Linked DNA regions of Homo sapiens: all the other regions are linked to region 4. The links come from fine-mapping of genetic effects on gene expression. A gene starts in region 4. Each other region holds a variant in brackets. All regions are shown on one strand. Distances are from middle to middle.

What was found.
Region 1: its variant is fine-mapped to the expression of CA12 in esophagus mucosa (GTEx, PIP above 0.99).
Region 2: its variant is fine-mapped to the expression of CA12 in sun-exposed skin (GTEx, PIP above 0.99). The same link has a PIP of 0.9 or more in esophagus mucosa and unexposed skin.
Region 3: its variant is fine-mapped to the expression of CA12 in cerebral cortex (GTEx, PIP 0.99).

What each region holds. Positions count from the first base shown.
Region 1 is chr15:63,347,561-63,353,728 of GRCh38, forward strand. All of the region lies in intron 2 of CA12 (carbonic anhydrase 12), which reads right to left. Among named protein-coding and RNA genes, the nearest start is that of CA12, 31 kb to the right of the region's middle. The variant C/T (reference allele first, on the strand shown) is at 3,816.
Region 2 is chr15:63,336,290-63,342,457 of GRCh38, forward strand. CA12 (carbonic anhydrase 12) reads right to left here. Exons shown (of 11, transcript NM_001218.5): 5 at 5,713-5,808; 6 at 4,431-4,494; 7 at 3,999-4,156; 8 at 2,530-2,656. LOC124903506 (a long non-coding RNA gene) reads left to right here. Exons shown (of 3, transcript XR_007064676.1): 2 at 5,525-5,632. Among named protein-coding and RNA genes, the nearest start is that of CA12, 42 kb to the right of the region's middle. RefSeq lists an enhancer at 1,940-2,836. The variant C/T (reference allele first, on the strand shown) is at 2,681.
Region 3 is chr15:63,978,832-63,984,999 of GRCh38, forward strand. DAPK2 (death associated protein kinase 2) reads right to left here. Exons shown (of 12, transcript NM_014326.5): 3 at 4,702-4,923. Among named protein-coding and RNA genes, the nearest start is that of DAPK2, 65 kb to the right of the region's middle. The variant C/T (reference allele first, on the strand shown) is at 3,445.
Region 4 is chr15:63,378,739-63,384,906 of GRCh38, forward strand. It overlaps CA12 (carbonic anhydrase 12), which reads right to left and starts at 3,108. Exons shown (of 11, transcript NM_001218.5): 1 at 2,898-3,108. The coding sequence starts at 2,982. RefSeq lists enhancers at 2,792-3,312, 3,313-3,832.

The DNA.
Region 1 (6,168 bases), 31 kb before region 4:
GGGCTCAAGCTTCTTGCTAACTACCAGATAGCAGTTCCTCCCCTGGAAATGAAAATAAACATGCTATGTGCAGATGAACTTTCCTACTCCCACAGGGAAAAAGTCTTTAAAGAATGTAAATCTATGTTTAAAAGATTATCTCCACGGTAATTAAACAGACTTTCAGGCCAAGGTTTCTCCAGAAAAGCAAAGAATTGGCATGTCATGGCTCGTTAGGGTAGACCCAGGGTGTCCTGTGGGCTCTATCAGAGCTGGGGATCAAGCTTTGCCATCTGGGGGTCCGTTCATCAGTATTTCAACACAAGGAAGGTGGGTAAATAGAGAAAAGGGGAAAGGAACACCACCTCTTCTGGGAATTCTTCTGTAGACCCCTGCACTGTTTCACAAGGGTGTAAATGTTATATTGGCCCCACAGAATCCCAACCCCCTACATCGTGCTCTCTAACTAGGGGACCGTATCTGAGAGTGGGAAGAATCCGAAGTGATACTTGGTACCCAGGTTCATTTCAAATGCTATGAGGCGTTGGTCCCAGGCTTAGTTAGTTCTTACTTCTAGGTCCGGACACACACATCGGAACCCTACTGATTTTTCAGGCTGTCAACCTTAGGCTATGCATTTTCAGAAATGTTACAGCATGACGGAATTGCAGAATCTCCAGTCCAACCTTTCACTGGACACCAGTCTTCTCACTTGGGCATGGCAGAGTCTCCGCTGAGCTCTACTATTCTTATTTTCAAGGCCTCAAAATAACTCAACTACACCAAGATGGTGACTAGGGAAGAGGGAGGCTGGAGGATATCAAAGCAGGCACTCCAGGGCCAAACTGGAGTAAGACAATTATTCAGCTGGGGGCCAAACCGAATGCTTTAGGGGCAGCGGGGAGCAGAATGAAGCAACCGTGAGGCCTCATGTAGAACCCCAGGGTCAGGAAGAGACACAGCACAGGGTAAGACTCCCTAAGTGAGGCTGCCAGCCTTTTCTGTGCTCACAATACTGCCTGGGCCCACAGCCAGCAGGGCGGAAGCTGCCAGCCAGGCATGAATGCAAAAAACTCAGGAAGTAAAGAGATGCATCATTGAGAAGCTTTCTCTTTGCACACATGACTAAAGGGAACTGGATTAGAAGGGTTTTCTTTTCCCACAGTGGAGGTTCAAAAAGGTTTCATCAAGAGGGCATTTTACTGATAGCTAAACGAGAGCCTCGTGAAGATAGGGACCCCTCATCTTCGTCTCTGTGAACCCATATTATAAGTAGGGTCACGTGCCCCCATGGGCATTTAGGAAACATTTTCCCAAAGAGTGAAAAAGAACAGAGGGCTTGGGAAAATGTGACTTGGGGAATGTTTCCTTTTTCTCTTGCTCTAAATACGCTTTATTGGAAGTTAGGACCAAATAAGGTATTTGGGGGGCAGGAAAGACTAAGGATATTAAAGGCAGTAGAGTTGGTGTTGGCAAAACCTGTCTTGGAAAGAGAAGCAGCTATGTTGGACCAGGGGAGTCCAGAGAATGAGATTCCAGCATCAGCTGTCCCAACACTTCAGTGGGTTATGTTCCCTGCTGGAGCCTCCATTGCCCTTCGTGCAAATGGTGGGGGTGGTGGGCGTAGTGGTGGGGATGGGATGTGTGTGGAAGCTATGTTCTGGAAGGTTCCTTCTGGCTCTTAAGCTCTGATATTTATTAAGAATACTAGGACTAAGCACCTTCTCCATCTGTCAGGCAAATTTGAATGAGTCAGAAAGGTTGCTCATGTCAAGGCAGCTACTGGGCATGTGACAAGGTGCCCAGGGGAACCAGCTTCGGGAATGAGGGCACAGGGCACCGGTGCTCCAGGACTGGCTGGGATCAGACAGCCATCTGCATCAGGAACCTGCCCTGGTCCTGGCTGCCATCCACAGCGGAGTTCGTCCTTGGGCACCAGTCACAGGTCTGTAGGTCAGCAAGGTCAAGAAAGCCTTGTCTTCGCCTCCTCCTCCTCCTCCTCATTGTTATTATATTGTAGTAGCTTTGATCCTTATAACTCTATAACCTTACGGGGTAAGCAAGGCAGAATTGCACCATTTTATGGGTGAAAAATAGAGATTTAAGAGATTTGCCGGAAGTTTGACTTTGGCTAAGTAACAGTTACTTTGCTTGGGTCACAGGACTTATGTGTCCTTCAGTATTTATCCAGGAGATTTTGTGCACCTGGAATTTCCTGGCTTCCCCACGCTGTCCTTGAAGACAAGGACCACGGCTCATCCATCGCTGCACTTCCCACAGTGCCTGGCACAGAGTGGGCCCTCACATGTTTACTAAGCTGAACTCTCAACACCTGTTTCATGCTTGTTCCTTTCCCAGGGAACGTGCACCCACCTTAATTCCCTCATGTATTTCTTCTCCTCAAAAAAGAGGAGGAAAAATGAGATCACTTGCTCAGGTTCAAAATGTACCCTCCTAGCTTTCTAGCTTACCTGTGTGCAAATGGTTTCTGTTTGGGGGCACTAATTGAAAAAGAAATCTGATTTCTGCCCTGTAGCCTGGGAGACGGCCTGCCAAGGAAGTTCATAGGGCCCTCCCCCAGCATGTAATGGCTAGTGGGTGTCCCCGCCTTGCATAGCTGGGGACACTGTCAGAGCAGCCTCCTGTCTTTGTGGCATGTGAGAGATAGAGGTGCCATGAGGGTGGGCACCGGGACAACCAATATCAGAGGTGACAACAGCAGGCCTTTCTGTTCCCTGAGCTGTGACATGTGACTGCACAGTGCTGGCCTTATGCTGGCCGCTACACCCTGGGCTACCATTTTCCAACTCAGTGTCAGCTTTCACACTCATGCCAAGTGCTCCACTGCCAGAAATCCTCCACTGGGAGTGACTCTCCTAAAAGAAGCATTTATTTCCAGCTAAAACTTTGCCTTTGCTCTTCTGAGTTTTGACTTCGCCTCTCCAGTTGGTTGGACTCCTCCCATGATCGTGATACAGGAGGATCACGTGTCTTTCACAGTTTGTTTTTCTAAATAAAGCCAAGGCATTATTTCTTTCCTGTCTATGTGTTTTTCCTGCTCTAGGCAAAACAGAAGTGGTCAGAATTCCTGTTTCGAAAGGTAACAAGAGATTAACATGGCACAGCTCAAAATGCCTCTCGTGATTTCTGATTGGGAATTTTGAGGCCCAGGGTGTAGGACCTGCATTATCCAAGGACCAGAATGTTTTTACAGAAAATTTCAAATGTATACAATGTAGAGAGAGGAGTGGAATGAACCCCATGTCACCCAGCTTGGACAGTTTACAATTCAGAAACAGTCCTGCCTCATCTATGCTAAGCCCATTCTCCCCTTATCTACCTGGATAACTGGAAACAAATCCAGATATATTTCATCTGTATATATTTCATATGTTTCTCTAAAACATAAGGGCTCTTAAAACCACAGTACCATGACCACACCTAGAGAGTTAAGAATTAATACCTTAAGATTACCGAATCCAATTAGAATTCAAATTTTTCCAAATAGGTCATAAATTTTTAACAGTTTGTAAATTTCAGGGTTCACATACAGTCCATATATTTTTTGCAATATTGCAATTAGAGGATGTGTTATGGCCTAGATTACAGCTTGATGGTGGAATGCCTCATCAGAGAACACCTGGGCCCCGCTCCTCCAAGGCTCAACATCTCAGAGCCAGCTTGGTCTATCCTTTGCCCTTAGTGGGTCATGGACTCCCATGCTTCCATGGGTTAGGCCCTCGCCATGTCACACTGCAAAGGCTTCCCACAGGCAACCAGCCCCAGCCTTCCTTGTTACACTGCCAGGCTGGCTCTCCTGCAGTAACCAGATCAAT[C/T]TTGTCATAGCCTGGCTTGGGTGGCACCACCCCACCACCCATCCGTACACTCCCTTTCTCCCTAGCATGCCCTGCCCCACCCCAACAAGACAAAGCACAGCCTAGCTGTTTTTCATGGCCTTGAAGTGCCCCAACCTGTCAAAGTCTTCAAAGGCCCCCACATCCCGCCCCAGCCTGCCCCATGCTTCAGCCAGCTCCCTGAGCCTAAGAACAGGCTATGCCAACCCACCTTCACAAATGCCGTTATGAAAAAATCTGCTCAAATGCCCTCTTCTTTCCTCTGCACCTTTCCAAATTTCGTCCACTCTTCAAAGTCCAGCTCAGGTCCTGCCAAAGCTACCCCAGTGCTTTCTAGTCCCTGACTTGAACTTCTCGGCCAGCCTACTCGGGTTGTGCACACTAGCAAGCAGTGATGATTGTTAGCCTGCCTCACCTGTGACTGTTAGAGCCAGACTAGTACAGAAACTTATTACAGACTAGAGCTCAGAATATGAGTTTCAAAGACCTTTGGAAGACCAGAACTTTATGTCATATCCCTACTTATGTCTGAACACATCCTTGAATGGATGTGGAGGGTTTTTTTAAGCTCATTTCAGAAATTTAGCCATAAAGGGATGAGAGAAGGGTGTATGCGTGGTGGTTATGGTAAGGTGAGGGTAATGTGAAAGATTTTGTTTTTTGTTTCTGTTTTTGTTTTTGAGACTGAGTCTTGCTCTGTCACCAAGGCTGGAGTGCAGTGGTGCAATCTCAGCTCACTGCAACCTCCGCCTCCCAGGTTCAAGCAATTCTTCTGCCTCAGCCTCCCAAGTAGCTGGGATTACAGGTGCGTGCCTCCACGCCCAGCTAATTTTTTATATTTTTAGTCGACATGGGGTTTCGCCATGTTGGCCAGGCTGGTCTCAGACTCCTGACCTAAAGCGATCCACCTGCCTTGGCCTCCCAAAGTGCTGGGAATACAGGCGCGAGCCACCGCACCCAGCCTGTGTTTTTGTTTTTTATGAAGAGGCTTGAGCAAACTGCTATGCAGACGGCAAAAGAGACCAGAGAAGGAAGGTTGGAGACAGAAGAAAGAGGGGCTCACTGATGAAAGGTAGCCATGAGAAGACAGTGGGGGGATCCAGGCACCAGAGTCAACATTAATTCTGCCCCATGACACTTCTTGGAGGTCATACTCTGAGGTGGACCCCCCTGTGTCTGTGTCAGTGCTCACTGCAGGCAGCTTCCTGGAGAACCTGCCTGGGCCCAAGCTCCAGGGTACATCTCTTTGGGCCGGCTACCAACACGCAGTCAGATCAAAACTTGCCCCAAAGGATACCACTGTAGTGGCAAAGTTTACACATTCTAGATGATGACACGCCCTTTTTCAACAAATAGGCACAATTTCAGGACAATGATAGCTTTTGGTTAGTCCCTCAAAGTTTGTTTTGTAAGGAGGTCTGACCATAATGAAAGGCATGTGTATCTATATGAAAATGATCAAAAATTATGTACCAAATTTGAATACACATTTAATAAGATGGATTGTATTTGCAATAAAAAACGAGTACTCAAATGTTGAATGAAGGAGAAAAATCTCTAAATGCTCTCCTTCTTGGAGTGCAATTTAATTTTGGAGTTAATGCATTCATTTCTTCAACAAATGTGTCTAGTATGTGTCAGGCACTGTACTAGGTGCTGAAGATGCAATGGAGAACAAAACAGCTCTAGTCTCTGACCTTGCGGCACTCACAGACCAGTGTAAGAGACTGATAATAAATAACAAGTAAACCAATGCACAAGGAAATAATTGCAATCTGCAATGAGCGCTGCAAAGGAATTAAACGAGGGCTGCAACAGAAAAATGGAGGGATCCCTGTCAAGCAGATGATGCAGGCAGGCTTCCCAGAGGAGGCGCCGTTAAAGCTGAGATTTAAAGGACAAGTAGAACCAACCATGAGTGAAACGTGAGGAATGGCGTTCACTAGAGAGGGCCCAGCAAGCTCAGAGGCCCCGCTGCAGTGGAGAGGCTGGTATATTCTAGGGATGTGTGATGCATTGACTCAGAAAGAGTCTGGGATCCATCCGGCCTCCCTTTGCCAGGTCTGGGTCCTGCCCTGTGCCAAGGCTGAGCTAGGATCATTTGACACCTGCTTGTGTACATTCCTCCATCTGTTAGAAAGGTCTTCCTGTTGGGAGGCTAGTACCTGCCTCTCTCTGGGGGTCATCCAACAGTCCCGCTCTTGTGGCTAGAGCCACAGAGAACACAGCTAAGCCACAGGACTCAGAGGGGACCGCAGACTTCATGTCCCCTCTAAATCCATCTGGAAACCAGACATCCTCAGGATGGTGTCTGCATGTAAAAGCCATTTTTTTA
Region 2 (6,168 bases), 42 kb before region 4:
ACAAGCAGCTGCTTAGACACAAGCCGGTCTAAGAAGATGGCTAATTATCCCCAATGCCATAGTCCATCGTTACAAGCGGGGGTTACTTTTGGATGTCAGAGTCAAGCTCCTGCCCGGTTTCTTCTGATCCTCTGTAACTGCCCTCAAACACTGTCCCTGCAATGTAAAGTCAGGATTGGCAGTTGTTAGTGTCCACTTAACCATCACAACATATTAGCACCGAAAGGACATGAGATCACCTAATCCAACCTGGCTTTTTTTTTTTTTTTTTTTTTTTTTGAGACAGAGTCTCACTCTGTCACCCAGGCTGGAGTGCAGTGGCATGATCTTGGCTCACTGCAACCTCCACCTCCCGGGTTCAAGCGATTCTCCTGCCTCAGCTTCCTGAGTAGCTGGGATTACCTGGCATTTTGTGGCTGAGGAAACCAAGGCCTGAAGAAGGGACACGATTTGTCCACAGCCTGCAGCCAGGAGGAAGCAAAGCCAGGCCTTGAACCTAGGCCTCCTGACTGTAAGGAGAATATGTGCCACCCCTTCCCTGGGTGTGCATAGGTGAGCTCAGAGAACAGAGCCGGCAATGGGGTCCTGGGATCGCGAGCAAAATTCTATCTGATCTATGTGGGCAAAGTTCCTAATCTCCTGGCAGAGTTTTTATGTTTTTGGTTTTAAGAGTTGAAGTAGTTCCATTTAACCCTTGGATACTACATTCTCCACTTAGAAGAATGAGAAAAGACAGCGTTGTATCCATAACAGATACATTCCATGCACTCAGTTCATTTCCTAGAAAAGAAACTGTTAGTTATCATCACATGGATTTTGAATTTTCAGGAAGGCTACTGTTCACAGATTCTGTTTTCCAACTGAGAAACTGAGGAAAGAGGGAAATGATCTTAATTAGTTGTACCTGGAGAGGAGAAAACACAAAAGACAAATTCTTGGGCAGTTCTTCATGAAAAGACAGAGAATGATGTAATCCTGACCGTAAGGATGGGTCAGTTTCTAAAGCTTCCTGGAAAGGGCCTTCAAATACAGTCTCCATATGTTCAACTAAGTTTAGGAGGTGATCGTTATAACCTCATATAATAAGAAAGGAACCCAAAAAAGTGCACCAGGTGAGACGAGGAGAGCAGATTCTGACAAGTGGGTTAACGGGTTTCTTTTGTTTTTGTTTTTTGGTTTTTTTTTGAGACGGAGTCTCGCCCTGTCACCCAGGCTAGAGTGCAGTGGTGTGATCTCGGCTCATTGCAACCTCTGCCTCCTGGGTTCAAGCGATTCTCCTGCCTCAGCCTCTTGAGTAGCTGGGATTACAGGCATGTGCCACCACGCCCGGCTAATTTTTGTATTTTTAGTAGAGACGTGGTTTCACCATGTTGGTCCGGCTGGTCTCGAAATCCTGACCTCATGATCCACCCACCTCGGCCTCCCAAAGGAGGCAAGACACCGTGCCCGGCTAATTTTTGTATTTTTAGTAGAGATGGGGTTTCACCATGTTGGTCAGGCTGGACTTGAACTCCTGACCTCAGGTGATCCGCTTGCCTTGGCCTCCCAAAGTGCTGGGATTGCAGGTGAGAACGGGTTATCTTTAAATATGAACGCCAGGCCCGGTTTGGTCCACACGTGATGCTGGGGATGAAATGGAACTGCACAGACCAGCCATGAAGATTCCCAAGCTGGGAAGCAGTCGAGAATCTACAGTAAGAAAGTGAGCTTGAAAGTGAACTCAGAGGTCTGAAGAGGGGTGTGGGCCCCAAAAGTGCTCCCTCACCCCTTTCCCCTGATGCCCAGTTTCCAGCAGTGTTGATGTAGGCACTGAGCAAGGAAAACGGTTAATGTTCTACTGGGGAGTTATTGGTTACAGCTGTGAAAGGGAGACCCGAGCCCTTGTAGCATTAGGAAGAAACCAAGCTATTAAGTTTTGTTCAATTGGGAACTTATGTGCTTGTGCTTATGCAAGCTCCAAGGAGGTTAGACAAAAATGCAGTGCACAAGGGTGCTTCCTTGCCTAACAGGCCCTGCTACATTAGACATGGTTGTGGGTTACACTCACTGTTTTACATCTAACATAGGAACATTCTTGCTCATTTGGTGGTGGTGCATGAATCACCTGGCCAGGCCTAAGATAGGCTGGCTGCAGCCTTTGATGCCAAGAAAGCCTAGGGAGGGAAGTTAGAAGTCTGATCTCATGGAAAGGGTCCTATCCTGTGTCTTAGAGAAGGGATCATTGTCTGGAACAGAGAAGTCCCCAGGGAATTCTCTCTTACCCATCTGTGCAAGACTCCCAGGCTTAAAGAGTGCTCTGGTCCATGTGCCTGGGGGCCTCGGCTTTTTGCTTCTCTGCAAAGACTCACTGAAGGGGGGACCCCAGTGAGCCCCACACCTAGTCTCACAAGGCGCCTGGTTCCCGTGGCAGCCAGGGAGCTCTCAGCCAACTTCTTGAGGGCATCAGTGCCAGAGCTGCATTCACAGAAGATCCCAATGTCTTGGCACCACACTCCCGCACCCCCTCCCCCCAGCACTGCCTCTCCTCACCTTGGGAGAAGGAGGTGTATACCAGCCTCTCATCGAACTTCTGGACCTGCCGGAAGTTGTTGATCATTTCTCTGGGGGAAGGGTCGTCCATGTGTGTGCAGTACAGGGCTGTCTCCAAAGCCAGCAGCTGAGGGCAAGAGCAGAAATAGCC[C/T]GCAGGCAGAATGACCTCCTCACCTGATCCCCTGGGAAGAGGCTAGCTCTCCGCTCTTGCACCTGGGAGAAGCCTCTGGAACCAGCTTCTGTGGGGCCGGGTGGGAGATATTAGAAAGCAGAGGGAAAGCCACAGAACTGCTTCCCTCCACAGTGGGTGAGTGGGAGCTGGGCAGCGCTGGGTTTATCTTCCCAGCACCCGAGACTTCAGGGAAAGGCAGTGCTGTTAGTTTCCAATTATACCTGGAATCTGCCCTGCGTGGAGGGAAACCTGGGGTGATGGAGTGCTCCTTAACCTCCACAGAGACTGAGTTCCTCTCATGAACTTAAATTAGAGGCCAGCTCTCAACCAGAGGGTCGCAGGGCTTGTTCTGATGGTCATATCAGAAGGAATAAAGGAGGGAGTTAAGAGTTTCACAGGCCATCTGATTGCGGGTTCCATGGCATTTTCATGCACCTGCATAGATTATATAACCCTTTCCCAAGGCAGTTTCTGAGGTAGGATGTTGCTGCTTCCCCACATGTTTCATCCATCTCTTGGTTCATCATGTCCTCATTCCTGTCCACCCACCTGCTGCCATTTACCAGGTGACTCAGAGCAGAAGCTTACTGTAAAGAGGAGCAGCTGTGAGGCTGCCCTGGACGCATGAAGCTGGCGTGGGGCTGTGAGCCAGGGTGTAGTGCTGGCCCCAGCCCCGTCTCCTGGGGAGCCATTTTTCTTCTCATGAATTTAGGCTGTGGAGGACAGGTATGAGCAGTGACATGGAACTCAGATGACCTAACTTTGGGTCTCAGCTTTGTCACTAACCCGCGGGTGATCCCACAGACTTCTACTCTTCTCTCTCATCTCCTATCAAATAAGAAGCTTTAGAGGTGATGGCTAAGGATTTTGTTCCCCAGTTTGCACTAGACCTTGAGCTTCTTGGGGGCAGGGACCCTCACTTAGTCATTGCTGCAATCCCATCTCTTAAATGATTTCATCTGATCCTGTCTTTATTCTGCCCTGTAAAGGAACCAGGCTCTCTCCTGCCTGGGAAGTGAATACCACCCAGCCACTGAGGATATATTAGCAAATGCAGATTTAGAGCTCTTTTTTTTAAAAAAGAACTAGGAGACATCTATTCATTTGCCTAGCTTGACTTCTTTTGAAGCTCAGCCTGGAATTTCTGCGGTGCTTTCAGACACCTGTGATATTTGGAGAGGTTTTGAAGAGCTGCCAATGAAACTAAATGAGGAAATCAAGTCATTGATTGTGATATGGAGGATGATGGGGACTGAGGTGCCGCGTGGACTCTGGCTGAGTCTGGCACGACAGTTACCTGCTCCTGGGAAATTTGCACGGGGTTTCGGAAAACTGTCCAGAGCACAGTGGGGTTGCAAGGGGGTGTGGTCAGGGACCCCCGGTAGCGGTAATATTCAGCGGTCCTCTCCGGAAGCAGCTCTTCAATGTTGAATCCCGGGACGAATGCTTCCTGGCCTAGAGAGACATGTTGCAGAGGTGATAGTGTCAGCCTCCCTCCGTAGGGCATAAGTGCAGCTGAACAGAGCGACTGAGCCTAGAAACATGAACTAGCCCCTTTCAGGGTCATCTAACCCCAGGACCTGGTTGCAACATTGTTCAACAACCTGCTGCTCTTAACCTGGTGAACACAGACAGCACCTGCCCCTTGTGTTTGCTTTTCTTAAAGTCACACAGGGCTGACTACCTCCTTCTCCAGCAGAGAGTGAATATGCATGCAAGGACCCCTCACCTTTGTACTTTACATGTTGAAGGTGACTGAAGATCTTGTCATAGGACGGATTGAAGGAGCCCATCTGCAACAGAGACAGGGCAGGTTAAACTGGGACAGAACAGGATAGGCTGAGCCAGGATTGACGATTGCTATCAGAAGGGCAAAGCTGTGGGTATGTTGCCACCACTGCCTGAAGGATCCACTTTACTGGACAATTATGATGGATCACTAGGCTCTTGGGAGTTAGTGTAATGGTCCTGCCTCTTGCATCTCAGGACGTCCTGTTTTCAGCTTAAGGAGTTGGGCTTGAATGTCCTGGGGCATAGGGTACCGTGTGTGCTCTTGATGATCCAGATATGAGCCTGAAGGCTTTGACTAACATCCATGTCACACAGAACTTAAGGAGCTCTGAGTTCACAAAAGCCACGTCAGACAAATGAGCATGTTGGGAAATGAGGTACATACAGCCTCATTAGGAAAAAAAAACATGCAAGCCAATCAGAAGACATTCCTCTATCTTGGGATAAAAAAAGAATTCATTCCAGGGTACATATAGAGCAGGGGTGCCCAGCCCCCAGGCTGTGGACCAGTACCGGTCTGTGGCCTGTTAGGAACTGGGCCGCACAGCAGGAGGTGAGCAGCGGGCAAGCAAGCATTACAGCCTGAGCTCCGCCCCCTGTCAAATCAGCAGAGGCCTCCCATTCTCATAGGAGCACAAGCCCTATTGTGAACTGCGCATGCAAGGGATCTAGGCTGTGTATTCCTTACGGAATCTAACTAATGCTTGATGATCTGAGGTGGAACAGTTTCATCCCAAAACCATCTCCCTCCCTGGTCCATGGTCCGTGGAAAAATTGTCTTCTATGAAACTGGTCCCTGGTGCCAAAAAGGTTGGGGACCACTGATCTAGAGGTCCCTTGGATCTAGAGGAGCTTGGATGGCAGGAGTTGTATCAAGAGTTCAGGCATCTGATGGGGCAGATGGAGTTTGATGATCCCTTTCCAGCACAGGTCCTCCCCAACTGGGCAATTCCATGCCTTATGCAACAGGGCTAGATGTTGGGGCCCGTTTTTCCAACGGACCAAAGAACATTCCCCATTTCTGCTGCCCAGGCACAGAAAGTGCTGCCTCCAGGCCAAGAGAGAAGGTGCACTACAGGAGGATACCCCCTGCTCTGGAGTTGACACGGAGTCGATACAGGAACAGCTGATTATCAACAGGTATGCATGGAACAAAAGGTGGAATCCCAATCTCATCCCTGCTTCAAATTTCACCTAAGAACCTTTTAAATATCTCTTACCTCAATGAGAACAGCCAGGACAGCGAGGCCTTCTGACTTGTTGCTGGCAGTGCTGGCGTCAGGATAAAGGTCTGAGTTATAATGGACAATGTGCAGCTGCAGTGGGGGAGAAGCCACCCATTAGGAGATAAGCGACTCATGGGAGCCTGTCGCTTCTGCAGAAGACTTGACTCCAACTGTGAGGACAGAACCCCAGCCCCCTCAGCCCCCCAGACTAGGTTAGGTCTCTCAGACCCTCCCCTTATTTTGCCAAGGATAAGGACATGTGCCCAAGGTGGTCAGGGCATGGCTTGTTTTGATACATTTTAGAGACATAATACATCAATCAATACGTACAAGATACACTGGTTTGATCTGGAAGGGCAGGAAAACTCAAATTGGAGGCTTCCAGGACATAGGTAGATTTAACTTTTTTCTGACTGGCAATCGGTTGAGAGTTATCATCAATAGAAAGGA
Region 3 (6,168 bases), 600 kb after region 4:
TCATCCCCTTCCTGCAAATCTGACCTTTGCCTCCTTCCTCCCTGCAGGGTGGCATGCCTGCTGGAAATGCTTTTCAGACTCTTCTGGAAATGTATACATGAATGACCTGCACAGGCAGCGATAGGGGAAAAATGCTGCCAGAGCTGCTGGGCCCAGGAAGCTGGGCTCAATTCAGGAACCTGGGAAGCATCACTGCCACCCTGGAGCACTCTGCCAGGCAGTTCTCTGGTATGCAACCACCACGGTATCGCTTTCCACAGGCTTGGAATCAAGGAGGCCCCAGAGCAGTCAGGGGCCTGTGATGGGAGGCCAGCCCAACCTTCACAGGGAGACTTACATTTTTCAGGGCTAGTTCCACATGTGACATGAGTTAAGCTGCTGAGATTTTGAATATATTCTATACCCCATACAGAAGTCAACTTATATGGACAATTAAATCCTTCCCAGTCCTGCCTTCAAGAGTCACGACCAGAGGCAGCTGCTTCTAGGGAGGTCACAGATGGGATAATAACAACTGAAAGGGATTTAGATCAGAGCCAGGCATGTCCTCCTAGTGCTGGCCACTTGAGCAGAAAGCAGGCGGAAGCCCTGCACCAGACAACAGTTGCTGAGAGGGGCAGTGGGATCAGCGTAGACTCATTCATAAAACCTGCAACTGGGCAGCTTTCAACTGAGTAGGTGGATACTAACACTTACTGGGCAAACCCACTAACCTATTAGGGCCCAGTGAGGACCACGAGGCCAAGACTTCTGACCAGCCTAACAGGAGTCACTAAGTCTAAGCAACAAAAGCCCATGAGGCTGGGTGCGGTGGCTCATGCCTGTAATCCTAGCACTTTGGGAGGCCAAGGCGAGTGGATCACTGGAGGCCAGGAGTTCAAGACCAGTCTGGCCAACAGAGTGAAACCCCACCTCTACTAAAAATACAAAAAAAATTAGCCAGGCATGGGGGCACATACTGGTAGTCCCAGCTACACAGGAGGCTAAGGCACAGGATCACTGGAACCCGGGAGGTAGAGATTGCAGTGAGCCGAGATCACGCCACTGCACTCCAGCCTGGGTGACAGAGCAAGACTCCATCTCAAAAAACAAACAAACAAACAAAAACAAAAGCCCAGGAACTCCTCTCCTGGGAGGTCCTCCCTCTCAGAACCTGGCCATACATGGGTTAGGGACAGTCTTGGAACGCTTGGGTCTTCTCCAATCTCATAAATTCTTAGCAGTCCATAGACAGGCACCCTGAGAACAATGAGACAGCTTGGAAGTGAAGGGGGAGACAGAAACGGGACAGAACTTAATAAGCACAGAGGCCCAAGCAAGTCATGGGAGCACCAGCGTGACAACTGATGTTACAGATGGTGCACCTGAGCTCACAAGAAGCCGGCACATAACTGGCTGACCATGAGCCCTGTTGGGAAAAACACAGACATCTCAAGAGCATTTACCTGCCACATCCCCGCCACCGACTCCTAGGGTTCTACAAACAGGAAGAAGCAGGCAATTTCCCCAGCAATTAAAGGCATGCCAATTATAGTAAGAAAGTATCAATTTATAGCTATAAAGATCAATAAATAATGAAACACGTTTCAAAACAAATGACCCAGGGCTGGCAGGGCTGCAGGCACACAGCAACACTCCTACGTTGTGGTAGTAATGGTTAACCAGCACCATCTTTGAAAAGTGAGGATATTGAGTCCCAAAAATGTCAGCCTTTGGCTTAGTCATCCCATTCCTGGGGATGTTAGCTAAATCCTCAGGACTTTGCTGAAAGAATTAATTAAAAAGAAAAGGAGAAAATCATGAGAAGAAAGTTGTTTTATCAGTAAAATTTGTAATGGTTAAAAGCTAGGAAATAAAAAGCATGTGTCCAACAATAAGGATGCTATGGTTTGACTATTTGTGCCCTACAAACTCGCATTGAAATTTAATTCCCAATGCGGCCGTATTAGGCAGTGGGACCTTTAAGACGTGATTGGGTCGGGGTGCGGTGGCTCACGCCTGTAATCCCAACGCTTTGGGAGGCCAAGGCAGGCGGATCATCTAAGGTCAGGAGTTCGAGACCAGCCTGGCCAACATGGAGAAACCCCATCTCTACTAAAAATACAAAAATTAGCTGGGTGTGGTGGTGGGTGCCTGTAATTCCAGCTACTTGGGAGGCTGAGGTAGGAGAATAGCTTGAACCCAGGAGGTGGAGATTGTAGTGAGCCAGGATCGCGTCATTGCACTCTAGCCTAGACGACAGAGCGAGACTCCATCTCAAAAAAAAAAAAAAAAGAGGTGATTGGGTTATGAGGGCTCTGTCCTTATGAATGGATTAATCCATTCATGCATTAGTGGATTAACAGGTTACATGGGTGGGACTGGTAGCTATATAAGAAGTGAGACCTGAGATATCCCACTCTGCCCCCTCACCGTGTGATGCACTGGGCTGCCTTGGGGGACTCTGTAGAGAGTCCCCATTAGCAAGAAGGTCCTAATCAAATGTGGCCCCTCAACCTTGGACTCCTCAGCCTCCATAACTGTAAGAAATAAATACCTTTTCCTTATAAATTAACCAGTTTCAGATATTCTATTATAAGCAATAGAAAATGGACTAAGACAAGGGAAATACTGGTATGCAATTCAGTGAAACATATAGTCAGTTAAAAGAGAAAAGCCAATTTTTAGAATTATGTTAATTGGGGAAAAAAGTAGAGCAGGAAATTATACAAGTACAATGATTGTATACAAATAGATAAAGATTGAGAGGAACCACAGAAAAACATAAATAGCTGTGTTTGGGTTGTAGGATTATAAATGTAATTTCTTGTCCATTCCTGCTTAGTTTTTTTTTTTTCCTCCCCATAATAAACTTTTTAAGAAGTGGCTCGGCCTTTCCAGAAAGGTGCACTTGTCACTCTCTGCTGGGAATCAGGATGCCGACTGCTGACCCTCAGCTTCTCTCTGGGTCACGCAGGGCAGGCATCCAGTAGTCCAACCAGCTGGGAGGCCCGTGGGAGAAACATGGAGGACACTGGGAGCTAGCGAAGGGAAGAGCACAGGCAATTCTATACATTTAAACACCGAGATGGATAATTTAAGAATCAAATGCAAGAGTATGCAAATGTCCATCTGCTACTTAAATCTATATCCTGCCAATACCAGAGCATAGTTCTCAAATTAGAATGATCTCAAATGTCAGGTGGTCCACCGAGTCTGTAGGCAGGTTAAGGATGGCTGCCTGCTTTACAGATGAGAACTAAAGCTCAGGGAATTGAGGTGACTTGCCCAAGGGCACAAAATCAGGGATTCCTGAGAGATTCTATCACTCCCGCTACCAGGCAGGTGTATACATGCTTATGAGCCTCAGAATATTCTTTTTTTTTTTTTTTTTTTTTCCGAGATGGAGTCTTGCTGTCACCCAGGCTGGAGTGCAGTGATGCAATCTCGGCTTACTGCAACCTC[C/T]GCCTCCCGGGTTCAAGCAATTCTACTGCTTCAGCCTCCCGAGTAGCTGGGATTACAGACACCTGCCACCACACCCGGCTAATTTTTGTATTTTCAGTAGAGATGGGGTTTCACCATGTTAGCCAGGCTGGTCTCAAACTCCGACCTTGTGATCTGCCCGCCTTGGCCTCCCAAAGTGCTAGGATTACAGGCATGAGCCACTGCACCAGGCCAGAACATTCTTTATATAGTCCTTGCTGCTTGACTGGACACAGCCACTGTAACTTGTCCACAACCCAACTCAAACTCTATTGTTTATCAGAGCCCCACCTGCCCAGGACGATACCAGCGTGGCTAGCCAAACCCTAGAGTATTGAGGTCATCTATCCAAATTCCATCATGAACTGTGAGGTCTTCCTCTGCTAAGCCAGCATAAGGCCAACCCGCCTCACACTCATAGCTGTCTGCACAGGCCGTGTGGACTCAAGTCCTGGTCCTGCCACTTCCTGGCTATAGGCTCCTGTAAGTGTCCTGGCCTCTCAGTGTTCTTGTCTGTAAAATGGGGATAATAAGAGTGTCTGTGTGACAGCGTTGTTATGAGGATTAAATAAGGTACAGAAGTACTTGGCTTGCACAATGAATACAAAATAACCTGTCTGCACTAGTAAGACATTTCCCTCATCACAGTCTTTAAAGATTGAACAAGACGACAGATAGAAAGCGCCTAGCAAATTCTTGGCTTACAGTAGGACTCTCTAAATAATAGCTATTATTATAACAATAAAGGTGTCATTCACAGCACAAATGCAGTGGACTTTCCCCAGGAAAGGGCTGGAGAAGGGCTTCGCAGAGCCCAGAGATGTTTGTACTTCCCCTCCTCATAGTACACAGCCCTCGCTGACAGCCTCCCCTGGCCCCACCCCACCATCTGTCCCACTCACCCTCCCACATGCTTCTCCAGCCAGGAAAAGACCCCAGTGCAGTCATTTCTTCCCTTTGATCTCCAGGATCCAGTGAAAGCCAGACTTAGGCCATTGCCCTCTGCCCCTGCTATTCAGCAAGCTTGCCCCTCCTTTGGCTCAGTTTCAGGAGGAGGAAGCGGGTAAGGAGGAAGGGGGTAACTGAGACAGAGGGGATCTGCCCACCACTGACTTCACCTCCTCTGGGCTGAGCTTAGGCCTGGTTGCTGCTGCCCCCTGGGGCCTGTGGCTGGAGTTTCCACTGCTCTGCCTGCCCCTGCTGCCCCCCAACCCTGTGGGTCCTGGGGACCCCACTCACAGCTCAAGGATGAGCACCACGTCGGTGCGGTTCTCATAGACGTCGTGCAGCGTGATGACATTGTGGTGCAGCACCTGCCGCAGGATGCTCACCTCCCGCTCGATCTCCTCCCGGCTCACACCGCGCCGGCTCGCCCGGCTCTGCCGCTTCTTGATGAACTTGGCTGCATACTCAAGCCCCGTGCTCTTCTCCCGGCACTTCTTCACGATGGCAAACTGGCCACTGTGGGGACACAGACCCACAAGATTAGGTCATCACTGTGGTCATTGGGGAAATGACCCCACTGTCAGCTACCAGGTCACACAAATTCAGAGTGATTCTGCCAGGACAGGACAAATCATGCCACCAGTCTGCATCCCCACCTGATGACAACCTGTGGATGAGATGGGGCAGGGACTGGGCTTCCCTTCTGTCCATTCCTTCTATGAGGAATGAATGTTAGTATTCTTAGTCCCAGTGTACAGAGGTGAGCACTGAGGCCCAGAAAGGTTATTGATCAGGATGACATAGCCTTGTCATTGCAAAATCTCAGCTAGAACCCAAGTCTAGGACCCACCAGATGAAATCACAATGTCCATAAGCAGACTGGGCTGGTGGGGATCCAGGTTTGGGTAGAGTTTGGAGAGGAGGCAGCCTAACAAGGTTAATCATCATAGTGGGGGAGCATCACAGTCAGAGGACTTGGTATAAACAGAGAGTTGTACAATTAGGAAACTGAGGCATAAGGATAGGTCATGTGACTCGCCTGAGGTCATCGCAGAGTTAATGGCAAAGCCAAGCCTCAAAGTCAGATACCCAACCGGCTGTCCACAAAGCCTCTGAGATAGTTAGAGCAGTCTAGACCATTATTATTCCCCTTCAGGCACTAGTACCCAGGGCTGGGCTCAGAAACCCATTACTCCAGGGACAGAGACAGCAAGCATGAAATGGAGTCCATGGCAGAGTGGCAGGCAGCCCTGAGCCAGCTTCCCTGAGTGCTCCAGGGGCCCTCCCCACAGGGAAGGGCACCAACCACCTGCTTCTGCACCTCAGTTCAGTGACCAGCAGGAGCAGATCTAAGTCCTCAGAGACTTCCCAGTGACCATCTTGCCCGGGGGTCCTCCCGTCCCCTTACTGCCATTTGCCATCATTGCCCCATGTTTTCTTGCCACCCAAAATACCCACTGCTTGAGTAACTCAGAAAGTTTTCTGGTTCAGCTTAATGGCTCAATAAGGGGCCAGCAGACTCCAGACTTAAGAGGTACACTCTTAGTGGCTCTGGGTTAAAAGCTACATACAGGGAAATGCCTGGGATATTTGCCCCAAATGCAGAAAATAGCAAAATAGCACTGCATCTGAACCACTCCATCATTAGCATCATCCTCAGTGAGACAGTCTTCAAAATACCCGGAGTGGCAATAACAACAACAAAGTCAAGTTCAGCAAGCAACAGATACATAGGCCAACACTTAGGTAGCATTCTATGGC
Region 4 (6,168 bases):
TAAGCCAGATCATTACCTCTTAGCAGGCAGAACAGTTGGAGGCCCAGGATGTAAAATTCCACAAATAACAGAGGAGTTCACCCTTACTTTTCCCCTGAGGAGGCACAGGCCACTCCAGTGATCCTGGAGGCCACTAGAAACACATCTGCTGCCTGAGCACTGCTGCCTTGCCAGCAGTTTGCATTGTACCTGCTCACATTCAAATCATAGCCTTATACCCTACATCTTCTGCTACCCTCCCAGGGCTCGCTAATCAAGGTTTTCCCTGTTGTTGGAGTTCTCATCCTCAGATGAGGCCTCAGCATCACACTCTGGAAAGCTCAGGGCTAAAAGTCATAGAGTGGACATCTGGGACTGTGAGGTCGCGGTGGTGACATAGGACTGGGGACTTGTTGAAAGGCAGCAGCCTCCAGAGCAACATTCCCTGCCCTCCTCTCTGTGAGTGAGCTGGCTTGGGACTCCAGACTCGGCACTTTGGGTATAAATGGCAGTGTCTGGAGGGGCTCAGGAGCTGGAGGGCTGGGGAGAAGCGGCGTTGTAAGTGAGGATGGTGAGTCAAGGGGGTTCATCGGGTGAGGATCAGGGCCCCAGCTCAGCTCTGACCTCAGGAAGTCTCTCTAAAAGTGTGTGTATGTGTGCGTGTGTGTGTGTGCACGCGCACGAAAGTGTGCTTTATTCAGGAATTGCACCCCCTGGTTCCCCACTTCTAGCTGTAAGAACAGAAGGCTTAAAAGGATTAAACTGATTCCACAAGCGAGGCCAGGCCAAGGCCTCAGTGGCATCCTGAGGGAGCAGGCCCTTCCTGGAGGGGAATAGTTTCCTTCCCAAGGAAGGTTATCTGTTCCATCTGGGAAACCTGGGAGGCTCAGCCTGAAACCTGTTAGAACCTGCAGACCCAGCTGGTACTGGGCAGGGAGGTTCCCCTGGAGGGAATGCCCAGAGAAAATGGTATTTACCAAGATCCATATCAGAGGTCCTGGGCCCTGCCTGCTTCCTGTGCTGGGTGCTAGAACTTTCCCTGAGTAACCATCTCCTGGGTAGCCCAAGACTGCCTGGCTCTCCACACCAGGTTTGGGCAGGGCAAGCTCTGCAGAATTCACTGAAATGCCCCCCAAAGCCACGGCAACTAAGAATTCCAAGGGTTTCTCCAGAAGACACTTGACTTCACATTATTATGCTCCCTCCTGGGCCCCTGACATTGTTCTTGAACATTCTCCAATGCTGGAAGTTTAAATGCACCAGGCAGAGAGCAGATCACACTTTGACCCCATTACTCAGCTTAACTCCTCTCCACCTCCAACTTTGGGTTCATGCTGACATTCTACACCTCAGTGATTTTTGCTTTGACCTGTCCTCTAAGGCAGTTAAAAACCCAAGGAAACTGCATGAGAATTTACAGAATAAAAGCTGTGCTCTACCCAGGGGTAGGCAGTCTCCTTCCTCAGAGTGAGGCGAAAGTGGAGTTTTGACTACAAACTTCCCCAGTCCCAACTTGGAGAATTGGGAGAGGAGATAAGGAGGAGGGAAAGGGAGAGGGAAGAGGAAGAGCAGGGAAAGTAGGGAAGAAAGGAAGGGGAGGGAGGGAAGAGAACAGGGAAGGGCAGGAAAAGAGAGAGAAGGGAGGCAGAGCTGCCCCAGAGTGAGAGGAGCAACCAGCTATAGGAAAGAGGGCCAACTAATGGCTGTTTCTCCCTTTGGTCTTGGAGCAACTTAGGACTAAAGAGATTTCCAGGGAAACTTTGGTCTCAGTGCAGCTTTCGTAAAAGGAAACATGTAAAGTTTGTGGTTTTAAAACTTGATTTTCACTTTTACATCGCTCCTTTCTCCCAACTTCTGTTACATCGCTTCTGTTTCTCCCTGACCAGATGAGGGAGATAATATCAAGCACATCATGCCAGCTAGTTGACTGGAATTTAATTAAGAGTTATCCACAGCCTGGCTCCCCTGCCCTTCCCCATGGGCACTGTGACCTCCAAGAGAGGAGGCTCAGAGCTTTTATGCTGCTGAGCAGGACACATTTCCCACCACCACTGCCTCGCCAGGAAGAATCTAGTTTCAGCCAGTAAAATCACTTTCGGTCCAAAATCACTTTCTTATTCCAAAAGATTAATGAACCAGCCTTGGCTGTACACGTGTTAGCTCACTGGCCCGGCGTGAGCCCACAGTTCAGGTCCCCTCTGCCACCTCCTCCTGTCACTCCACGGAGCCTCCATTCAGTCCCTCAGCCTCCAGCCTTTTGGGATTTAGTGTTCTAATTACAATCAGAAATATGCTGTGTGTGTGTGTGTGTGTGTGTGTGTGGTTTGTGTGCGTGCGCGCGTGCGTGTGTGTGTGTACGTGCACACACACGTACATTCAGCATAGTAGAGCCCTCCTGGAGAAAAACAATGATTAAGAATGGGATGCATCATCCCTTTGACTTGTAGGTAAGACTTAATGGTAAAGATCCTCTCCTCCAAAGAAAAGCGCCTACCACTGTCTGCGGGTTCTGCACAGGGGCACAGCAAACCTTTCTCTGTGCTTACCCCAATCAGAATGCCACAGTCATGTCTCTACTTTCTAAACGTGGATCAGGGGAACGCTGTTTTAAATCTTGGCTTTGCATCTCCTCCCTGGTTAGCAAGTTCCCAAGCCACATCTTCAGAGCTGGCGGTGCCCGGGAGTACACGCAAACATTTTAACACCAAATCTGCGCCAAGCGCCACTAGAAAGCAACGTGCTTCCCGACCCAACCTCAGCAAAGGAAAACGGAGCATCCTTTCTTGAGAATCTACTATTTGGTACTACACCTTCCCTGCTCCCCGCAGCAATGATTTTACTTTATCATTGAAGAGCCTTCAGCCCAGGGGCGGCTGAGCGCTCAGGAGTGTTAGGAAAGAAGCAGGCGGAAACTTTACCGTTCACTGGGGCCGGGCTGGAAGGCTGTTCCTTTAAGATCACCAGCAGGAGCACGGCCGCCGCGTGCAGGCTGCGCCGGGGCATCTTCGCGGGCTCCTGCGGGGCGGGCGCGGGCTGTGCCGGGGGCTCCCGGTGGCCGCTCGCTCTCCAGCTGCACACCGGGACCGCGTGCGCGCAGCCTGGGTGCCGTGGCGAGTACGTCCGCCCTTCGCTCTCCTGGCTTCCCCGGGCAGCTTTTATGGAGCAACTCAACGCCAAACACTTGATGTCATCGTGCGGGGAGGGGGTGGGGGAGGAGAACGCCCTGCCCACCGGAGGGCTGGCGCCCCAGATCCTAGGTGAGTTGTAGCCTTGACTTCAGCAGCACTCTGCGGGTCCCCGGCGCTCCTCTGGGCCAGGGCTGACCCAGGAACACAGTTCTCCGAGGAGCTGCTGGCAGGCGTGGGTGAGATCCGCCTGTCTCACATCCAGAAGGGTGCGTCTAGGGATTCCTTCAGTGGCATGCCCTTGGTCTGTCACTGGTCCTGTAACAGCCCAACGAGTTCACCTTGCCCGCTGCTTAGACAGAGCCCATTTATCAAGACAGGGGAGTTGCAATGGAGAAAGTAATTCACGCAGAGCTTGCCGTGCCGGAGACCGGAGGTTTTCGTTCCTTTGTTTGTTTGTTTGAGACGGAGTCTCGCTCTGTTGCCCAGGCCGGAGTGCAATAGCGTGATCTCGGCTCACTGCAACCTCCGCCTCCCGGGTTCAAGCGATTCTCCTGCCTCAGCCTCCCGAGTAGCTGGGATTACAGGCACATGCCACCATGCCCAGATAATTTTTGTATTTTTAGTAGAGGCGGGGTTTCGCCAGTTTAAGGCTGGCCTTAAACTCCCGACCTCAGATAATTCACCTGCCTTGGCTTCCCAAAGTGCTGGGATTACAGGCGCCCACCACCACACCCGGCTAATTTTTCTAATTTTAGTAGAGACGGGGTTTCACCATGTTGGCCAGGCTGGTCTGGAACTCCTGACCTCAAATGATCCACCTACCTTGGCCTCCTAAAGTACTGGGATTCCAGTACTCAAATCAGTCTCCCCAAGCATTCCGGGAGTTGTTTGTTTGTTTGTTTGTTCAGACGGAGTCTCCCTCTGTCGCCCAGGCTGAAATGCAGTGGCATGGTCTTGGCTCACTGCAACCTCTGCCTCACGGGTTCAAGCGATTCTCCTGCCTCAGCCTCCTGGGTAGCTGGGATTACAGGCACGCGCCGCCACACCCAGCTAATTTTTGTATTTTTAGTAGAGACGGGGTTTCACCATGTTGGCCAGGCTGGTCTTGATCTCTTGATCTCGTGATCCACCTAAAGTGCTGGGATTACAGGCGTTGAACCACTGCACCCTGCCTCTGGGAGTTTTTAAAGATAATTTGGCAGATAGGGGCTTGGGACTTGGGGAGTGCTGATTGGTCAGGTTGCAGATGGGATCACAGGGGGGTTGAAGTAACGTTTTCTTGCAGTCTTCTGTTCCTGGGTGGGATCGCAGAACTGGTTGAGCCAGATCACACACGGTCTGAGTGGTGTCAGCTGATCCATCCAGTGCAGGGTCTGCAAAATAGGATGTTAGATTTTACAATAGCGATGTTATCCCCAGCAGCAACTTGGGAAGGTTCAGACTCTTGCAGCCTGACGCCGCAGGACCCCTAAACCATAATTTCTAATGTTGTAACTAATAGATTAATCGTACAAAGGCAGACTGGCACCCAGGCAAGAAGGGGGTCTTTTCGGGAAAGGGCTATTATTGATTTTGTTTCTGAGTCAAACCATAAACTGAATTCCTTTCTAAGGTTAGTTTGGCCTATGCCCAGGAATGAATAAGGACAGCATGAAAGTTAGAAGAAAGACTGAGTCATTTAGGTCTGATCTTTGTCACTGCCATAATTTCCTCAGTTATAATTTTTGCAAAGGCTGTTTCAGCCCTACTCAGAATCCCCCAAGTATAGTGCCATTTGGGCAAAAGCCTCCTTCATGCTTTTTTTTTTTTTTCTTCAGGTGCCTGCCTGGACTTAGCACAGGTTAAGGAACTGGACAAGATAGTTACATTCACATGAGTTTCTGCCAATTGTTCAGTGCATCCTGATTAAGTTCTTACCTTCCAAGTTGAGATGCAAAGAGATGAACTGAGAATAGGAGAACAGCACAGTGGGGTACACATGAAGAGCTTATCACAATTCCCCTTAGTAACGGGTAAGTAGATGGGACTCATGCTGGTTCAATACATCATTCCATCCTCACTAGGAAGCTGGGAGAGAGGGTCCCTCTTTTGGGGTGGCAGCAGAAGAAAGGGACTTACATTATTTACTGAGCACCCGTTGTGTGTCAGGCACTTTTTTGGGGGGCTTAGAACATGATACCCCAAAGTATGGCACCTTGGCATGCTGAGTACTTTGAACTGAAGGAAACTGAAAAGGCCTCAGAAACAAGGTCTCTCTGACCTTCTCCCATCCTCCTGTCTCCTGCCCCTTCTTCTCCCGCTAAGTGAATCATAGAAACCAGAATCCCTCTTCCCCAGGCAGGTCATAGAAAGTAGAGCCCCTCTCCTCCACAGCAAGCCATAAAATCTAGAAACATCACTCTCTCCCCTCTCCCTTCTCCTTTAAAGACCCTCATTCGAGAGGGGTCCTGCCCCATACCCAGGAGAAAGCAATGCTACACAGAGAGGTCAAGAAGAATTGGAACGGACAGGCCTTGCTGGGTTCCCCTCAGTCTATCACTATGAGATCACACCCTTCTCTCCAATCACATTTCTATACGGCCATCCATGTTCTTCATCAAACCTAAGCAGAAACACCGTTCTCCCTGAGTCTTTGGGTCTTCATTTCTGAAGTCTCTTGTGTCACTTGTTGGCCTGTCTTTTGTTATTTGAGTGTCAACTGTGACCTTTATGATGGGGGAGGAAAGGGATCACACCTTTCTGTCCCTACAGGCTGTGCTAGACCTACAGGCTGTGCTAGAGAAACAGGAGTGTTTCTCTAGTCTTGTTAACCTGCTGCCCCAATACCCCCTAAATCTTCCCACTGCTGTTGCCACCACTGTAGTCATTTGTGCTTCTGGCTTCCCTGGGCCCTCCGTGTGTCTCTGCACCGCTGCAGGGGCCAGGCTCGGTTTCCTCCCCGCTCTATGATCCTACTCACTGCTGCCTATGCACACTGCTCAGGTCACATGGGCTGCGGAAGGGTGTCCACCCCAGTTCTGGTACAGGACCCCTGGGTTTGTGACCTGGCCTGTCATGCCCT